Linked DNA regions of Homo sapiens. The main gene of each other region encodes a partner of the protein of the gene in region 2 in a complex. Each region holds a gene or a part of one and is shown on either strand. Other genes may lie near its edges. The genes, in order: TENT4B and ZCCHC7.

The links.
Region 1: ZCCHC7 (region 2) and TENT4B share a complex: the UniProt entries of both Homo sapiens proteins name them as parts of the nucleolar TRAMP-like complex.

What each region holds. Positions count from the first base shown.
Region 1 is NC_000016.10:50,147,528-50,157,389, reverse strand, and holds the start of TENT4B (terminal nucleotidyltransferase 4B), read right to left. Parts: upstream 4,085-9,862; 5' UTR 3,769-4,084; coding exon 3,131-3,768; intron 1-3,130. UniProt on the Homo sapiens protein: Terminal nucleotidyltransferase that catalyzes preferentially the transfer of ATP and GTP on RNA 3' poly(A) tail creating a heterogeneous 3' poly(A) tail leading to mRNAs stabilization by protecting mRNAs from active deadenylation.
Region 2 is NC_000009.12:37,113,732-37,124,412, forward strand, and holds the start of ZCCHC7 (zinc finger CCHC domain-containing protein 7), read left to right. Parts: upstream 1-6,842; 5' UTR 6,843-6,892; exon of another isoform or gene 6,893-7,941; intron 7,942-10,681.

The DNA.
Region 1 (9,862 bases), on a different chromosome or scaffold from region 2:
ATAAGTGGGCTATACCAAGAGCATGAAGTGAGTACCTTTGAGAGTTCAGAGGAGAAACCAAAAACATCAAGGACTTAGGCAATGCAAGAGGTCAGCATTCTAAATAAATCAACCAATTTGGTGGAAGCAGAGAACACAAAAGACAGCTGCGAGAGACTATATAGCTGTCCCATGGTTCTAGTCCATTTTCACATGCTTTCTGGTCTCCTCTCCCCATCTGGACTATCAGTTCAGAGGCCAAGAACCACCACAATGTGTTAACCTATTAGCTAACTATCAGTCACATCTTAAGAATTCAGAAAACAATGGTAACAGTTTTAGTATATTTAATCTCAGAACAGCATAACATCGAGGTGCACTCTGAATTCAGATTTTTTTAAATACCTATATTAAAAATAGAAAAACTTTCTAAAGTTAAGAAATAAGGATACTGGCGAGAATGGTGGCTCATGCCTATAATCCCAGCACTCTGTGAGGCCAAGGTGGGAGGACTGCTTGAGGCCGGTTGAAGACCAGCCTAGGCAACAAATGGAGGCCCCATCTCTACAAAAAGTAAAAATAAAAAAATTAGGCAGGTGTGGTGACATGTGCCTGTAGTCCCAGCTACTCCAGGAAGCTAAGGCAGGAGGATCACTTGAGCCCAAGAGTTAGAGGATACAGTGAGCTATGATCACGTCACTCCACTCCAGCCTAGGCAGCAGAGTGAGACCCAGTCTCAAAAGAAAAAAAAGAAATCAGGATAATGAGGCCGGGCACGGTGGCTCATGCCTGTAATCCCAGTCCTTTGGGAGGCCAAGACGGGCAGATCACCTGAGGTCAGGAGTTCGAGACCAGCCTGACCAACATGAAGAAACCCCGTCTCTACTAAAAATAAAAAATTAGCCAGGCGTGGTGGCAAGCGCCTGTAATCCCAGCTACTCGGGAGGCTGAGGCAGCAGAATCGCTTGAACCTGGGAGGCAGAGGTTGCGGTGAGCTGAGATCGAGCCACTGCACTCCAGCCTGGGCAACAAGAGCGAAACTCCGTCTCAAAAAAAAAAAAAAAATCAGAATACATGAATCAAAGCAAGAATTTCTAAGCACCCAGACACTCTTAACACTCTTGGGAATTGTTTAATGTATTTTTTGAAACTAGGAGGTCTCAGAATTGAACTTTTTTTAATTTAAAAAAAAAATTAACTGCTGACATCCTCTAAGGGAGGAGGCAAAAGAATGGAAAATCTGGTGAAGTGATAAGCAGTTTTTAAAGAGGTTTACAACCAGTTTTTAAACAGTAATCCCTCCGGGAAATGAAAATTCCTCTCCTAATCCCTTTGAGGGCAATATATTTGAATCAGGAACAAGAACATCTTGCTTCTAAGTATAAATATGAACCTTTTAGAGTATCTTCTGCATTAAATAGCAAGTAGAGGAGAGGACAATTTCTAATTTATCAAAAAAAAAATAAGCATCTTGGACTTATATCTTTTGCTAGACACATGCAAAGAGGCTTCAGTAAAATGCAATTAAGGAACTTCAAGGTTTTCGTTGACAGTGATTACCTAACTGGAGCTTACTCCTGTGAAATGAAACTACCAGAAACCCTCAACATCAATTTGCTTGTCACTAAACCACAGGTTTACGCGTAGACTTGGAAATGCTAACAGGATGGAACCACAAGCCTTTAATAAAACGTGATGACCATGGAGAGCACCCTTGAAGCTTAGCAACAGAGGACTCAACCCTAAAAGGGTTCCCTTTCTGGAATGTGAGGGCAGGTTTGACATGTACCACAGCACCAGTCCTAGAACGCTTGACTGCATTTTCCACAAAAGGTAGGAGTTGTAATAGTAGCATAGAGCAGACACCAGCCCACTGGAAGCAGATGGAACCCACCAACTCATTTTATCCAGACCTTCAAAAAGGTACACAGAACTCTCTCTCTCAGCCAAAGCAGGGCAGATCTGAATGAATAAATCCAGGAAAAGGTTCACATGGGATTACTAATTGGTAATTTCATTTGCATGCTAAAGCCCTCAATGTAAAACACAACCTGAAAAATGAAAAGCAATTTGAAAGCCGGTTCTCCATACTCAAGCTACACACACACACACACACACACACACACACACACACACACCCACGAGACCCAAAAGCTTTGTTTTACAAAACAAATAAGATTCAGTGACCTATTCCAGCACAGGGACTCTTCTGAAGGGAGATCTAGTTGGAAACATTCCCTGCTTATGTACATAATTCACTAGGGGTCAGGTAAGATTCCATTTTCTAAGAGCTGAACTTTAAACAGAAAGTCACTAGTGGTGCAATATTCACTCATTAGCATAAATCTCTACCCCCTAGAATGAAAAGCATTGGCTGCCTCTGCCAGGATGACAACTTTACAGTGAGAAGCTGGAGCCGCGGACCATGAACTCCTGGAAAGTTCTATCAGGGCCTCAGAAGGGCTCACCACCTTCACCAGCCTAAACTTAGTGGTCACCCATCCCACGCCACCCTCTGCATAGACAGGGCATCTGTGACATGGGAATTTTTTAAAAATAAAAAGATGGGCCAAAGGGTCAAGAGCAGGCAATGCCTTACAGGGCTGACATAATTGCTGTCTGGGATTGGGGGATGGGGAGGAGCATTCTGGATGTTTCTATTCTTGGCAAGGAAAGCACCTCCGGGTCCTGCACCATCAAAAAACACTCACACACCAATGTTCTCAGGGAATGAATGATAGGCCCGTGCTAAGCGGTCTCATCTTGAGTTGTGATGATGGGGAAAAAGGTGTGGAGGGCTGGAGGCGGGGTGGTGGTCAAGGGTAGATGTGTTTAACTAAGGGGGATGGGAGGAGAGTGAATGGATAAAGGGGGGGGCCTGGGGAAGGTGTGGACGGTTAAGAGGGAGGGGAGGAAGGTGTGGACGACTAAGGGAGGACAGGAGACGGAGGGTGTGGACGGCTAAGGAGGCTTGGGGAAAGGTGTGAACGACTGGGGGGTTGGGGATGGCCAGCAGCACCCCCGTGCAACAGCAGCGAAGGCAGGCCGTGGGGGTGGCCGCTCCTAGACCCTCACAACCCCCCTCTGTGGGCGTGTGCCCGGCTGCGCATTCGCACCGGCCAGGCCATCGGGCCGCAGAGCCAGCACTCACCCCACGACTCCCTGGTTGTAGTTCCTCCGTTTCCACGGGGTCCCGCTGTACACGACCCCGCCGCCGTCTGCTCGGCCGCCCCCCGCGGCCCGCCCTCCGCTGGGCTGCAGCAGGCTGTAGTTGAGTCCATACGTGCTGGCCTTGTTGTCGCGCTTCCTCTTGTTGCTGCTGCCCGAGGCCGAATCGGCTGGATCGGCGGCGGGGACGGCGGCCGAAGGGTGCGGGGACGAGGACGCCGAGGGAGGCGAGGACGCCGAGGAGCCCGCCCGGCGGGCCCAGGCCCCGGGCTGGTGGTGGTTGTTGTTGTTGTTGGTCGTCTCTAGGGGCAGGAAGTCCCGCTGCTCCGCGGGCAGCGCGTGGCTGCCCAGCAGGCGCTCCCCGGAGCGATACATGCCGGCCGGGGCCGGGGCCGGGGCCGAGGCCGCGCCGCCGGGGCTGCCGGTGCTGCTGCCGCTCCCGCCGGTGGCCGTGCTGCTGCTGCTGCTGCTGCCGCCGCCGCCGCTCGCGCCGCCGCTGCTGTGACAGTGGTGGTTGAAGTAGAGGTTCCTCAGCCCCTGGGTCGTCTCCCAGATCTGCATCCACAGACTGTTGGACGGTCCGAGCTGCTCTGGCTGAAACCAGGCGATCCTCGGATCCATCAAACGGCGGCGGCCGCTGCCCCCGCCCCTCCCGGCCGCCCGCAGGGCCGCCGCCGCCGCCGCCTCAGGCGCACGCCCGGCCTCGGCTGCTGCTGCTGCTGCCGCTGCTGCCGCTGCTGCTGCTGCTGCTGCTCGGGGCCCGCCGCGGGCGGCGCGGTCGCGCAGGGAGCCCGGCCGGCGCCGGCGGCGTCGCTCCCGCCCTCGGGGGCTCCGCGGGCCCTCCCCCCCTCCCTCCGCCCCTCCGCCCCTCCGCCGAGCCCCTGTCACTGGGGTCCCCGTGCAAATGGCGGCGGCGGCGGCGGCGGCTCCACAGAAGAGCGAGCGGCGGCGGCGGCAGCGGCGGCAGCGAGACGCGCCTGCTCCGTAGCGTCCTCGCTCCTCCGGCCCCGGGGCGGGGCCTCTGCCGGCTCCGCCCCTCTCGCTCCGCCCCCCCCCCCCACCGCCCCGCCCTCACGCGCTCGCCCCGCCCCCGCTGCGCCGCGCAGCAGCCCGGGAGGCCTCGCCGTGCGTCACAGAGGCCGCGGCGCGACGGGGCCGCAACCGCCTGGCCCAACCGTACTTGCGCCATCTGTGGAGTGCTCCCACGTACCTGGGCGTCCGGGAGCTTCTGAGGCGCGCGCGGCTTCTCCGCCTCGGCTTCCCCGGTGCTGAGCGTGGACGAGGCCGCATGGAGGTTGCCGCCCGCCCCGCAGGGAGCGCGTTGTGGGAGGTGCCACTCCGCCCCTCGCTCCTCGCCCCTCCCATCCCTGTGGCCGCCGGATCCCGGGCCCTCGCAACCCTTCCTGACGTCTTGGCTTCTGCCTGCTTTCTAAAACACTTTCTTTTTAAAAAAAAAAAAAAAAAAAAAAACAGCCTATAACACTTTTTCTGGTGGCGTGGGGACACGCCCCCTGCCCGAGCGTGTGCCCCGGGGTCCTGACGCGGGCTGCGCGAGACCCTGCACGGCTACGTGTGCCCCGCCCTGCTGCGCCCTGGCCGGGGTGGGGGACCCCTCACCCCGGCCTGAGGCCACAGAAACCTGTACCCCATGCATAGCCCTGGGGGAGACCACTAAGACTGAGAGTGTGAGCCAAGGGCGGAAAGCCGCAGCCGCACACTCAACCCACTTTACAGGGACACGCAAACACGTGTAGATGCACAGAGAAGCAGACACACTCCTGCGCGGCGTAGCAAAGACGCTCTCCTGCCCTAAGGTGCACCAACAGCCTTAGAAAGCTCTTCTGAGTTCAGCATTAAATTTTAAGAAAACCCAAAACCTTTTAATCCTAAAATGAAGATTTAGCATCAGCAAAGATTGTCCACTAGGTCGTTATTTGCATGTCTTTCAAATCTCAGTGGTTAAAAAGCCAAGGAAAGGGGAATGTTAAGTATTTTAAATCAAGAGACTAAAAGAAAGTAAGTGAACAGCTTCTATGTGGGCCCTTTAAGGTTGGTCCAACGTCCAGAACAAGTCCCTGATGCCTGATATTGGCCTTCCATTTTGGGAGCTCAATATCCTGGAAAGTTTTTATGACAAATAGTGGAAAACTATCAAAGAACTAAGTGTCGCTCTACCTTTTTCTTTCTTTCGAGACTAACTCTTGCTCTGTCATCTGGAGTTCAGTGACTCATTCACAGCTCACTGCAGGCTCGGCCTCTTGGGTTCAAGCGATCCTCTTGCCCCAGCCTCCGAGTAGCTAGGACTATAGGCACGCGTCAACATGGCATAGAGACGAAGTTGCTCTGCGCTGCCCAGGCTGGTCTGGAACTCCTGGACTTAAGCGATCCTCCTACCTCAGACTCCAAAACTGCTGGGATTACAAGGGGGTGAGCCACCACGCCTGACCTTACTTTTTTTTTTTTTTTTGGTAAGAGAATAAATAGCACGACCAGAAATACGGAAAACACACAAAGACCCTTCAGCTGCAAACAACAGCTTCCTTGGTAGTTTATGCAGCCTGTTTCTTGTATGGGCTGCTCTAAGGGACCATGGAGACAGGCCTTTCAGATGTATGTTCATGTCTTTGACCTTGCACTACGCCAATGTAGGCTCCAGGCAGATATTCGAGGTGCCTTTGAAAAGCTCCAGGGCACTGTGGCCAGGGTTCACATTGGCCAAGTTATCATGTCCATCTGCAACAAGCTGCAGAATAAGGAGCATGTGATTGAATCCCTGCTCAGGGCCAAGTTCAAGTTCCCTGGCTGCCAGAAGATCCACATTTCAAAGAAGTGGGGCTTCACCAAGTTCACTGCGGATGAATTTGAAGACATGGTGGCTGAAAAGCGGCTCATCGCAGATGACTGTGGGGTCAAGTACATCCCCATCATGGCCCTCTGGACAAGTGGCGTGCCCTGCCCTCGTGAGGGCTTCCACTGTGCTGCCCCCTCTTAATACTCCCCAGTAAATCCTACTTCCTGTCCACCAAAAACAAACAAAAAAAACCCTTCGGAATTTTGATTCATTCAATTTGATTGTTGCTGTTGCTTTACTAGAAATCAGTATTAAAAGTTTTCTCTGTCCGGGGGCGGTTGCTCACACTTGTAATCCCAGCGTTTTGGGAAGTCAAGGCAGGCAGATCACCTGAGGTCGGGAGTTCGAGACCAGCCTGACCAACACGGAAAAACCCCATCTCTACTAAAAATACAAAATTAGCCGGGTGTGGTGGCGCATGCCTGTAATCCCAGCTACTTAGGAGGTTGAGGCAGGAGAATCACATGAACCCAGGAGGTGGAGGTTGTGGTGAGCCGAGATCTCGCCATTGCACTCCAGCCTGGGTGACAGAGCGAGACTCCATCTCAAAAAAAAAAAAAAAAAAAAGTTTTCCCTGAATGAAATTTGCTATGTACTAATTATTACATAGCCAGGAAAATAAGTAGCCGTATTTTTTGTGTTATTTACACTGACAAAAATAAAACATTGTATAGAAATAGATTTTGTTTGCTGACCTCATATTTGTTTTAAAAATTGAATCTCTGGCCGGGCGTGGTGACTCACACCTGTAATCCCAACATTTTGGGAGGCTGACGCGGGCAGATCATGAGCTCAGGAGTTCCCGAGACCAGCCTGGCCAATGTGGTGAAACCCCGTCTCTACTAAAAATACAAAAAATTAGCCGGGTGTGGTGGCACATGCCTGTAATCCCAGCTACTTGGAAGGCTGAGGCAGGAGAATCATTTGAACCTTGGAGGCAGAGGTTTTGGTGCGCCGAGATCGCGTCATTGCACTCCAGCCTAGGTGACACAGTGAGACTCTGTCTCAAAAAAAAAAAATTATATATATATATATCTATCTCTCTCTCTCTCTCAGCAGGATGCAGTGGCTCATGCCTGTAATCCCAGCACTTTGGAAGACTGAGGTGAGAGGATTACTTGAAGCCAGGAGTTTGAGAACAGCCTAGGCAACATGGTGAGACCTCTGTCTCTACAAAAAATTTAAAAATGAGCTGGGCCTTTTCCTTTAACGTAGGATCAAGGTAATAAAAAAGAAAAAAATATTCAACATGAAATTTGGAGGAGACAGATATCCAAACTATTATCAGATGCTAATTCATCAGTTACACCATAGTAATATCCTAAGTATGTTAAGTAAAAGGCTTTCTTCAGCAAAGTATCAGAGATACATTTGATTTACATACTTTTGTAAACTCTGTCTTCTCAGGATGCTGGGTACTTAAGATCCATGCTTTCAGGCCAAGTGTGGTGGCTCACGCCTGTAATCCCAGCAATTCGGGAGGCTGAGGCAGGCAGATCGCTTGAGGTCAGTAGTTTGAGACCAGCCTGGCCAACATGGTGAAACTCCATCTCTACTTAAAAAAAGAAATTAGCCGGGCATGGTGGCCCACATCTCTAAGGCCAGTTACTCAGGAGGCTGAGGTGGGAGAATCACTTGAACTTGGGAGGCAGAGGTTACAGTGAGCCGAGATCGTGCCACTGCACTCCAGCCTGGGCGACAGAGCTAGACTCCGTCTCAATAAATAAATAAATAAATAAATAAAATTAGCTGTGCTTGGTGGCGAGTGCCTGTGGTCCCAACTACTCGGGAGGCTGAGGTGGGAGTATGGCTTGAGCACAGGAGGTCGAGGCTACAGTGAGCCATGTTTGTGACACTGCACTCCAGCCTGAGTGAGATCCTGTCTTAAAAATAAAAATAAAAATGACCAGGCGCAGTGGCTCATGCCTGTAATCCCAGTACTTTGGGAGGCTGAGGCAGGAAGATCACTTGAGCCCAGAAGTTCAAGACCAGCCTGGGCAACACAGCGAGATTTTTGTCTCAAAAGAGAAGAAAAGGAAATAAAACTAAAAAATTTAAATATATTTTCTTAAACCCTGCTTGAAAAAAAAAAATTCAGGAGAGGCATGGTGGATTACACCTATAATCCCAGTGCTTTGGGAGGTTTAGGCCGGAAGGTGGCTTGAGGCTTGGAGTTTGAGACCAGTCTGGGCAATATAGCAAGACCCTGCCTGTAAAAATAATAATAATAATAGTAATAATAATAAAATTTTTAAATTCAATCTCAAGACATAAGGTCAGGAAAACATTTTTCTTTTTAATTCAAATAAGAACAATGGAAAGCCCAAAACACTAAACATTATTGGCTGGGCGCGGTGGCTCACACCTGTAATCCCAGCACTTTGGGAGGCTGAGGTAGGAGGATCACTTGAGGTCAGGAGTTTGAGACCAGCCTGACCAACATGGTGAAACCCCATCTCTACTAAAAATACAAAAAATGTAGCCGGGGTGGTGGCGCACACAAGTAGTCCCAGCTACTCTGGAGGCTGAGGTGGAAGGATCACTTGAACCCGGGAGGCAGAGGTTGCAGTCAGCTGAGATTGCACCACTATACTCCAGCCTGGGTGACACAGCGAGACTCCATCAAAAAAAAAAAAAAACAGATGTTATCAAGGTCCCACCAACAGAAATGCCCACTGTGAAAATTGTTAAACATTCATCCAAAAATCTCTCCATGCATATGTACATGTTGAAATACAGGTATATATTCCAGTCTCTTAAAATATTTCTTTAGGACCAGGCACGGTGGCTCACACCTGTAATCCCAGCACTTTGGAAGGCAGAGGCAGATGGATCACTTGAGGTCAGGAGTTTGAAAGCAGCCTGGACAACATGGTGAAACCCCATCTCTACTAAAAACACAAAAATTAGCTGGGCCTCATAGGCGCACACCTGTAATCCCAGCTACTTGGGAGGCTGAGGCAGGAGAATCACTTGAACCTAGGAGGCAGAGGTTGCAGTGAGCCGACATTGCACCACTGTACTGTAGCCTGGGTGACAGAATGAAACCCTGTCTCAAAAAAATAAATAAAATAAAATATTTATTCAGACATTCTAGAACACATTAAATGCCATTGATATCTAAGTTTTTTCAAGGTACTCAAAATTAGTAATAGCATGTGCAAGAAATTAACATTTGTTATATTTGAGTGCTGATTTCCTCAGGCAAAGGTTAAGAACTACTAAAGTATTGGCAAAATGCTAAAAATTAGTTAACATACATAAAAATACATTGTAGGCCGGGTGCAGTGGCTCAAGCCTATAATCCCAGCACTTCTGGAGGCCAAAGTGGGCAGATTGCTTCAGCTCAGGAGTTTGAGACCAGCTTGGGCAACATGACAAGACCCCACCTCTATAGAAAAAAATATAAAAATCACTTTGTGGTGCCGGGCACGGTGGCTCATGCCTGTAATCCCAGCATTTTGGGAGGCCGAGATGGGTGGATCATCTGAGGTTGGGAGTTGGAGACCAGCCTGACCAACATGGAGAAACCCCGTCTCTACTAAAAATACAAAATTAGCTGGGCATGGTGGTGCATGCCTGTAATCCCAGCTACTCAGGGGGCTGAGGCAGGAGAATTGCTTGAACTTGGTAGGCGGAGGTTGCAGTGAGCCGAGATCGTGCCATTGCACTCCAGCCTGGGCAACAAGAGGGAAACTCTGTCTGAAAACAAACAAAGAGACAAACAAACAAAAAACCTTTATGACCAGGCGCAGTGGTTCATGCCTGTAATCCCAGCACTTTGGGAGGCCGAGGTGAGCAGATCACTTGAGGTCAGGAGTTCAAGACCAGCCTGGTGAACATGGTGAAACCCCATCTCTACCA
Region 2 (10,681 bases):
GCTGGGTTCGGTGGCTCCTGCCTGTAATCCCAGCACTTTGGGTGGCTGGGGTGGGTGGATCACTTGAGGCCAGGAGTTCAAGACCAGCCTGGCCAACATGGTGAAACCCTGTCTTTACTAAAAATACAAAAATTAACTGGGCGTGGTTGCAGGTGCCTGTAGTACCTGCTACTTGGGAAGCTGAGGCAGGAGAATCACTTGAGCCGGGGAGGTGGAGGTTGCAGTGAGCTGAGATCATGCCATTTCACTCCAGCCTGGGCAACAGAGTGAGACTCTGTCACAAAAAATAAAAAAATAAAAAAAAGATTTCACAATACACCTACTGCTCTGCAATGTACCTTTTTTCACTGAACTGTATGTCTTTGTGAATCTTTCTATATCTTTTTGTTGAAGCTGCGTCTACAGGCGTGTGCCACCGTGCACGGCTAATTTCTGTATTTTTAGTAGACGGGGGTTTTGCCATGTTGGCCAGGCTGGTCTCCACCTACTGGGCTCAAGTGATCCTCCCACCTCAGCCTCCCGAGTAGCTGGGACTACTGATGCATATCACCATTCCCAGCTAATTTTTGTATTTTTGTTGAGACAGGGTTTCGCCATGTTACCCAGGCTGGTCTGGAACTTCTGGGCTCAAGAAGTCTGCCTTCCTTAGCCTACCAAAGTGCTAGGATTACAGGTGTGAGCCACTGTGCCAGGCCAAAAGTGGCATTTTTTTTAATAGTATAAGTATGTCCTTGTTTAGATCGTTCCCTACTAATGAATATTTGTTTCCATTTTTTTCTATCACAATGTTTGTACATACATTTAAGAACATACCTCATAATAGCGATAGATGCTATTAAATAGCTCTCCTAACACACTTTTCCAGTTTGTATTCTCATCTACTGTGCATGAGATAATTTGCATTTTTCTGACTGTTAGTGATGCAGAGCACCTATTCACGGCCTTTGGGTTTCTTGTTCTGTGAATTGCCTGTTAGTGGTCTTTGCTGTGAGAATGCTGAATTGTCCGTCTTTGTCTGACTACTTATTTCTCCAGGCCTCACTCAATTCTGTTCCTCTGCAGAGGCTTCCCCATGTCCCCTAATCAGCCACCACCCCCTCCTCTGCTGTCCCATAACACTGTTCACACCATGCCCAGGCCTTCATTTACCAACCATTCCATACAAAATCTACTCATTCCAAAAGTGTCCACTGTGAGCCTTCTCTGTGCTTGGCCTTGGGCTAGGTGCTGGGTGGAGAGACATGAGCCAGTCATCATAGACTCCATGCTAAAGTTCAATTTTGAAATGCAGCTTTGAGCATAGAAAAGAGCATGAGTTTTAGATCTAGACATAACTTGAGTTGAATTCCAGCTTCACCACTTCCCAGCTGTGTAATTCAGAGCAAGTCACTTGATTACTCCAAGTCTCCATTTCCATACTAGTGAGGTGAGGCTAATCCCTCCCTAAGAGAGTCACTTGAAGCTGGGCAAGAGACAATAATATCTGAAATGGCTAAAAAGGGCCTGTTACACAGTAGGCTTGCAGTGGATGAATGGTAGTTGAAAGGCAACTGTTAAGAGGTCAAAATCAGTTAGTTCTCAGAGGTTCTAAGAGCCACCAATAAACTGGAAAATAAAAAGGAAGGAAGTAGCTCCTCTCTTTGCAATGCAAAGGATATGGATGAGTGCCACTTGCCCAGATCCTGCTGCAGAATATCCTTTATCTTTCCTGCTCTCTGCAGCAGATTTCTGCTTTGTCTTGGCCCCTCATCCCAATTCAGCTGTGCACTGTTGATGTCCTACTGCCACTTTCGTGGGAAGAACAGGTGCTTCCCTTCTCAAATAAATGTTGGTCTAGGCAGGGCGTGGTGGCTCACGCCCGTAATGCCAGCACTTTGGGAGGCAGAGGCGGGTGGATCACGAGGTCAGGAGATCGAGACCATCCTGGCTAACACAGTGAAACCCTGTCTCTACTAAAAATACAAAAAAATAAGCTGGGCGTTGTGGCGGGTGCCTGTAGTCCTAGCTACTCAGGAGGCTGAGGCAGGAGAATGGCGTGAACCCGGGAGGCGGAGGAGTTTGCAGTGAGCCGAGATCGCGCCACTGCTCTCCAGCCTGGGTGATAGAGTGAGACTCCATCTCAAATAAATAAATAAATAAATAAATAAATAAATAAATAAAATAAACGTTGGTCTCTTTAGAAGATACTCTGTAAGAAAGACTTCAGGATATTTGTGCATGCTGTCACCCATGATTTCAAGAAGTAGGGGCTGAGCACTGTGGTTCACACTGAGGCGGGAGGACTGCTTGAGACAGTTCAAGACCAGCCTGGTCAACATGGCGAGATCCCATCTCTACAAAATGTATATAGTTTTAAATTAGCCAGGTGCAGTGTGGTGATGCACGCCTGTAGTCCCAGCTTCTTGGGAGGCTCAGGTGGGAGGATCTCTTGAGCCCAGGAGGTTGAGGCTCCAGTGAGCTGTGTTTACACCACTGCACTCCAGCCTGAGTGACAGAGTGAGACCCTGCGTCAAAAAAAAAATAAAATAAAATAAAAAGGAGAAATGGGGAGTAGAGACAGCTTCAATTAGAAAGAGAAATGCTGTGTATGTGGAGAGAGGCTAAGGTGGAAAGTTTCCCTGAAGACCCAAAACTTCAGCAGAGTAGGGTGAGTGGGTATATGTTAGAAGGACAGGGAGAAGGGCTTTACAGGCAGTGGAGTGTTCTCTGCAAAGGCACAGGTGTGGGAGGGCATGGTGTGTTCTGGCAACTGCCCAGGATTCAGCGTCAACAGTAGGCAGATGTCAGCTCATGAAGTGCCTTTTATGCCATCCAAAGGACTCTAGGTTTGAAGACATAAACTAAAGGGGTAGGCTGAAGCATTCTGAGCATGGGAAAGCAGTAAATCTTTGTTGAATGCATGTGTGACAGTGGGAAGATGGGACATGGTAATTAGGAGTACAGTCGTGTCATTTAATGATGGGGATAAGTTTTGAGAAGTGCATTGTTAGGTGATTTTTTCATTGTGCAAACTTCATCGAGCATATTTACACAAACCTAGATGGTATAGTCAAGTAAACACCTAGGCCACATGATGTAGCCTATTGCTCCCAGATTACAAACTGCTACATGTTACTGTACTGAATACTGTAGGTGACTATAACACAATAAGTATTTGTGCATCTAAACATGGAAGAGGTACAGTAAAAATATGATAAAATAATCATCATATATGCAGTCTGGTTTTGAGTGGAATGTCATTATGAAGCACATAACTATTATTTCCTATACTTGTGGCCTTCTATAAGTTTTACTTAGCCTTTCTACGCCTCTTTTCTTTTTTTGTGTGTGTGAAATTGGAACTTAAAACATCAACTTGAAAGTATTGGTGGGGCTGAGTGTCTCATGCCTGTAATCCTAGGACTTTGGGAGGCTGAGGTGGGGGGATCACTTGAGGCCTGGAGCCCAGAAGCTGGAGACCAGCCTGGGCAATACGGGGAGACCCTATCTCTACAAAAAAGTTTTAAAAATTAAAAAAATAATTAACTCAGCATGGTGGTGTGTGCCTTTAGTCCCAGCTACTTGGGAGGTTAATGCGGGAGCATCATTTGGGAGATAGGTTTCAGTGAGCTGTGATTACACCACTGCACTCCAGCCTGGGTGACAGAGCAAGACCCTTTCTCAAAAAAAAAAAAAAAATCCACAAAGTGTTGTCGAAATTTAAAATATTATAATAGATGGACAGGAGTAATCCTGGCAATATATTTTTAAATTTTTAAAAAGGTGACATTTGTTTTACACAATACATATTACCAAAACAAACAATCTAGTCATCTGTGATGTGCTTCTATGCCTGTTTTCTTTTCTGGAAAGTGGTTCTCCAATTTTACCTTTTCATAGTACCTTGTCCTTCTCCTTCCCAGCACTTACCCCATAATGTTAATTAAATGTTCTAATTCTTTTCTGGCCAAACTCCTAGACTATAACTGTTTTCCTAGCTAGATGCCTATCTCTATGAGATCAGTGACTTAAAAATTTACAGCTTTTCTGCACTTTCTAACACCGTCTTTTAACAGATAGATGTTCAATAAACGTTGGTGAAAACAATCAAACTCACACTTGTCTTGAGGAGAATTGAAATAGGCCAATGAATTGGCAGTGTGTCATTATGAGAGGAGAAAAATAGTTCAGAGCAGTCTAAGTTACGTTAAAGGTATGCAAAAATAATTTTTTTAAAAATTAAAGATATGGGGTCTCTCATCCAGGCTGGAGTGCAGTGGTGTGATCACAGCTCACTATGACCTTGAACTCTCAGGCTCAAGCAATCTTCTCACCTTGGCCTCCTTAGTAGCTAGGAATACAGTTGTGTGCCACCACGCCTGGCTAATTTTTACTATTTAAAATTTCTTATTTATTTTTATTTTTATAAAAAGATTTGTTTTTTTAAATTTATTTTTATATAATTTTTTAATTAAGAAAAGGATCTTATTTTAAATATAGATGGGGTCTTCTTATGTTGCCCAGGCTGGTCTCCAACTCCTGAGCTCAAGCGATCCACCTGCCTCAACCTCCCAAAGTGCTGGGATTACAGCCATGAGGCACCTTGCTTGAGCTTTAAACATTTTTGTTCAGACGGTCTCATTCTGGAGTGCAATGGTGCGATCTCGGCTCACTGCAGCCTAGACCTCCGCAGTTCAAACCTCAGCCAGGAACAGCTGGGACTCCAGGTGTGGGCCACCACGCCCTGTTATTATTATTATTTTTTTGACACGGAGTTTCTCTCTTGCTGCCCAGGGTGGAGTGCAATGGCGCAATCTCGGCTCACTGCAACCTCCGCCTGCCGGGTTAAAGCGATTCTCCTGCCTTAACCTCAGGAGTGGCTAGGATTACAGGCATGCGCCATCACGCCCGGCTAATTTTGTATTTTTACTAGAGACGGGGTTTCGCCATGTTGGTCAGGCTGGTCTCCAACTCCTGACCTCAGGTGATCCGCCCGCCTCGGCCTCCCAAAGTGCTGGGATTACAGGCGTGAGCCACTGCGCCCAGTCGCCCAGTTAATTTTTAAATTTTTAAATTTTTTTGTAGAGACAGCGTCTTGCTATATTACCCCGGCTGGTTTCGAATTCTCGGCCTTAAGCTATCCTCCCACTTCGGGCTCCCAAACAGGTGAGAGCTACCCCATTAGCCAGGCAGGCATTCAAACTTTATCAGGCCCAGAGGGACTTGAGTATGGTACTTCAGTTAGCACCATCCCATGTAGGTGGTGGTGGGGGTGGGGGTGGGGGGTAGGGGTGTGTGGCAATTGTTTAAAGGCATTTTGTTCTTTTCTTCCCAGTACCTGCATCACCCTTTATCTTCGTGTTCCTAAAATTTGTGATAGAAAGAACAATGTGTAGCCAATGGATAGCTTATGTTATTTTAGTGTCAATTCTTGGTATGTAGTTTAGCAAAAGCCTCTTCTTTTTTCCTTTAAAAATTCACTCGTGGCCGGGCGCGGTGGCTCACGCCTCTAATCCCAGCACTTTGGCAGGTCGAGGCCAGGAGTTCGAGACCAGCCTGGCCAACATGGTGAAACCCCGACTCTACTAAAAATACAAAAATTAGCTGGGCGTGGTGGCAGGCGCCTGTAATCCCAGCTACTTCGGAGGCTGAGGCAGGAGGATGGCTTGAATCTGGGAGGCGGAGGTTGCAGTGAGCCGAGACCGCGCCATTGCACTCCAGCCTGGGCAACAACTGCGAAACTCCGTCTCAGGAAAAAAAAAAAAAAAAAAAAAAAAAAAACCATAAAGAAAGAAAAAAATTCACTCGTAGCTGCTACAAGAAGTGTAATGGCTCATGCCTGTGATCCCAGTGCTTTGGGAGACAGAGGTGGGAGGATCGATACCTTTAAGCCTGGAGCTTCACAAGACAAAGAACTCAGTTGAAACTGCTGCTTATCGGATCACATATTAAGGGCAACTTGAATTGATGATCCCAGGTTGCCCTCATCAAACTTGGCCCAAATAAATTCTCCACTTATATTAACTTTGCCTCAGTTTTTCCTTTAGGTCGACAGTTATTTCTAAAGTTCTACAGATGGGTTTACCTTGTATTAAAATAAGGTGTGAGAAGGGCAAATGAAGCCAGAGGCTCCCAGCACAATCTTGCAACCTTCAGAGACTTCCAAAGGATCAGCATTAACTCCAATATTTAGCAGGAGTGCAGCTCTTCGAGATTCACAAAGTGTTAATCTGTTGCCTAGAATTCCAGAGAGTTGGAGGCGCCCAGTGTGAACTGTGTTCCGCCTAAAAGAAAAAGCGACCAGCCTAAGATCATGAGCGCAAGGGAGAAGCTTGAAGCCATGCGCTCTCAAGTACGCGTTTCCCGCTGCCCAGGTCTGCGGGCCAAGCAGCCAGCCACGCTGGCCCTCGTCATGCACGCGATCAGCTAGGCTCCCGCGCCACGTGGCACTGAGAAGGCGTCCACCGAGCGCCAGGGAGAAGGAGGCGGAGCCCGGCCTCAACCTCGCCCGTGTCCTCATGGGGGTTGTAGTTTTCCTCGCGGGGGTAGAGGGCACGAACTCCCCGGCTTTTGCCCGGTAAATAGCATCTCCTTCGTACGAGTCATTCAAATAATAGATGCAGCCTAGGTAGCTTCAAGAGAAGTTGGGAAGGGGAAGGGGGAAAGCAAGGAAGGCAAACCTAATAATTATGGGCGGGGCAGAGAACGGTTCGCACCCACTACGCATGCGCACATCAGGCGCGGCAGGTGGGCGGGGACGGAAAGGCGGTGACTAGAGCTGTGTTGTCCCCGGAAGTGCCTTCCCTCCCGGGTCTGCGCGGACGCGGCCTCCTTACCTCATTTGTCCTCGCCCCTCCCCGTCCCTCTACGCGTTTTGGTTCCCGGTTGGTGCTTCCTGTTCGCAGCTGCGGCAGTGAGTATGTGTGTGACGGACCCCCGCCGCCCGCGGCTCGGGACCCCTGCCTACCCTCCTTCTTGCCCGCCGGGCTGTGGAACTAGCGCGTGCCCCCTCGCCGGCCTCGACGTCTCCCGTCCGCCCCTCACTCGTGGCAGGGCGCAGCTCCTGGTCCGTCACCTGCGCGCCGCCCCACGCGGCCGGGCTGCGGGTCTAGGGGGTCCGCGTCTCCCTGGCTTTCCAAGGGCTAATGCCGTGATTCTAGAGCGGCTGGGCGTCTAGGGCCTCGGTGAGGGTGGCGTGTCTGCCCTTTTTATTTCCCCGCAAGGCCCCCAGTCTTCTAGGGAAGCCAGTCAGTGAAGCGCGGAGGTCCCGGCGCGCCGAGAGAGAGTCCAGTCTTTGAGGACCGAGTAGTCCTGGGCCACCTCCCGCCTCTGCTGTCAGAAGCAGCAGCTGCAGCAGTAGAATCCAAAATTTCGGGAGCTGTGACCCTTTCCTCATGTAAAACGAGTAGACTTGGACTGTGTTTACTAAGGCGCCCTTTATCCCTCCCATCCTGTGAGCGGACAGTTGCCTTCAACTTTTGGGAAGAGCTGCTGGTTCGGTGGAAAAGCTGTGGCTGGGAATCAGGAGGCCTGGGTTCTAGCCGTGGCTCCCCCACGGATTCGCTGGCGATTCCAGAAAGCTCTTATTGAAGCTGAATTTAAGATTATTTCAGATTGCACAGTTGAATTACGGGCTGCATTAGTAGGGCCTTTTTAGCTCAGTGAATAAGTTTCTCTGAGCTCCTTTCTCCAACTATAAAACGAGAGCGTTCAATTTGATGACTTTTCAGGTCCCCTCAGAAGCTCTTGACTTTGTGGTTTTCTTTTTCTTTTTAAAATTTTTTCTAGGACCGTTAGAGAAATGACTTCGTGTTTGAATAGTTAGGCTGTCGCATACAAAGACTTTTAAATGGATTGTGTGTATACTTAGGAAAGCGTTATGCTTTCAGGAGAATCTGAGCATGGGGAATAAAGTCAGGAAGGATCGCAAGTGAGGATTATATTAATATGATAATTAGCACGGTAAGAGACTGCATGACCGAAGGAAAAGGGCTAAGGGAAAGGTGAAGGAAATGTTTCCGGATAGGATTAGTTCTCGTAAAAATCATATATATATCCCAAGAAGAGCTGGGACTTAAGTGACTAAATTTAGCTTATTTTTTTTCCCCCACTGAAATACTGTGCTCTGTTTGTCTTTTGTGACTTTTGTTTTACACATTTGGATTCTCCATCCCAATCAGATTTGATTCAGAGTGGCCATCGCATTTGAAAAATGGACAGACATTTTAACCCTTTAGACAATTGTGTTTCAACTGTCCTGTCAGGGCAGCTTACTAAGAGTAAGAAAAATTTTACTTTGAAAGTAAAGTGTATTCATCACATTCCAATGAAAATTGGACTGAAAATGAGGCTGTGGATTTGATTTAAATCGGCCGGAGATGGATGCGTGTGTCATCAAGAAGGAACATCTAGGGAGGCTAAAGATATTTGGAAGTAAATAAGAGCAAAAGGTCAGAATGACCAGTAGGTAGACTGTGAGAGCAGAAGGATTGATTAAAGACTGTGTTAAGTAAATGCTGAAAGCTTAAATAAGCCTTAAGTTGTCTAGTTTAAAACAATTCAGTCAATGAATACTGCTCCCTCTTTTGAATGGTAATAGCCTTTGCAGTTATTCTATAGCTGTTTTATATTTGTTAAGGTATTTTAATTCTTAGATAAGTTTCATTTGCATGATATTTTAAGATGTTATATAGGAAACATCTTTTCTGGTCATGGGATTGATAGTTTTTGAGTACCAACTTGGGAGATTCTTAAATGGCAAACTGACAAACGTGTGTTTTCCTTACACCTAAAATGTCTCATTTAGTTTTTAAACTCTGCTGGGACATAAAATGGATATTTGTGAGGTAAATTTAGGTGTTAGAACCAATGCAAATATTGCAATGAAGGAAGGTTTTTCTTCAAAAAATCTTAATTTGAAGTTAACTTATTTGAAAATTTTATTTTGGGCCATGTGCGGTGGCTCACGCCTGTAATCCAGGCACTTTGGGAGTCCGAGTGGGGCGGATCACGAGGTCAGGAGTTCGAGACCAGCCTGGCCAACATGGTGAAACCCGTCTCTGCTAAGAATACAAAAATTACCCAGGCGTGGTGGCGCGTGCCTGTAATCCCAGCTACTTGGGAGGCGGAGGCAGGAGAATTTCTTGAACCCAGGAGGAGGAGGTTGCAGTGAGCCGAGATTGCGCCACTGCACTCTCACCTGGGGGACAGAACGAGACTCCGTCTCAAGGGGGAAAAAAAGAAATTTGTTTAAAAATTTTAGTAAACAGTTGGCTGAGAATCACAGAAATGTGAATCACTTCTAGCCGTGTTCTTAACCAGCTGCATAACCTTGAATAGGCTTCCTATCTCTTTGTATTTCAGTTTCCTGATGGGAAGATTGAGGAGTCTGTATGAGATAATCTGATTTTGTTACCTAGTTAGTATACTTGGGAATCATGTACAGGGATAAAAAAGCTGAGAAAGCCTTCTGAGTCAAGGGTGTGTGTGTGTGTGTGTGTGTGTGTGTGTGTGTGCGTGTGCGTGTGTGTGTAAAAAACATATATTGTCTTCCAAGACACTTTTTAAAAGGGTAAATTAAATTCATTTGAACGTAATTAAAGCAGTAACATTAACGAAAACAACCTTAGGCAGACCTTAACCCTGGCATACATAAACTACCTAAATAAGAGAGCACGTTATGCCCAGCACAATTTTCAAGTACAGACGGTACAAAATCCTCTTAAAGGCCATAGGGGCTAAATTGTTAAATTCATTTTTCTACATTTCAGGGAAAGAGATAAATCCTTTGACCCAAGGAAGTCAGTTTTTATTATGGTTCTGTAGTTTATTTTTGGCATACATTCACAGGTGTGCCTATGGCTCTATTCTTAATCCCTTTCCTTTGGGATGGCTGCAAGAGTAGTACAAACTTGTAACTTTGTAATTTGGCTTTTTAATTTTTTCTGTGCTGCACTGGAATTATGTTTTGTCTTAAGTCCACACTGGATCCTCAGGATGGATCCAGTGAGGATTTTGAAAGAAGCATAATTCCTTTGACTTCTTTTAGAATTAATTTACCTATTAAATAAAAAGGAAAGGATTCATCTTTTATTCGAATTCCTCTGAGGCTAACAATTCAATATAAACTGATGAATGCTGTGAGCATTATTCAGACAATCACATTCAATTTGTGTGACAGTAACAGCATAGCCACCTGAAGGACAGTGCAACAAGGGCACAGGTATATGATACCCTTTAGAAGAAAAGCATTACAGGTGGGTTTATTTGTTTCTGGAAAACAAACAACTCCAGTAGGAATGTAGTACATTTTTGGCTCTTGTCCATTTGGTTTTTGGGATTAAGGTGGTTCTATTACCAGAACTACCACCACAACACCCTGGTATTTTTGGGCAGAAATTTGGGACACTAAGAAAACAACTATTTTTTATTTTATGTGTATAGCTGTTAGTGGAAGAAAGAATAAATAGGCATCATTATTGCTCTTTAGGCTGTCCCTGATTTTGGACACACACTTATTTTTTCAGGGCTCTCATTTTAATCAGTAGTCCATCAGTACCTAATGGAAACATCTACTGTGTAGAGTTTTGGTTGCTGATGCTAGAATTTAAGACTTTGGAGTAGTCGAAAGACAACAGAGAAATTCATCTCATAATTTTTGTATTTTAAGCACATACTAGATTTATCAGGGCTGAAGAACAAA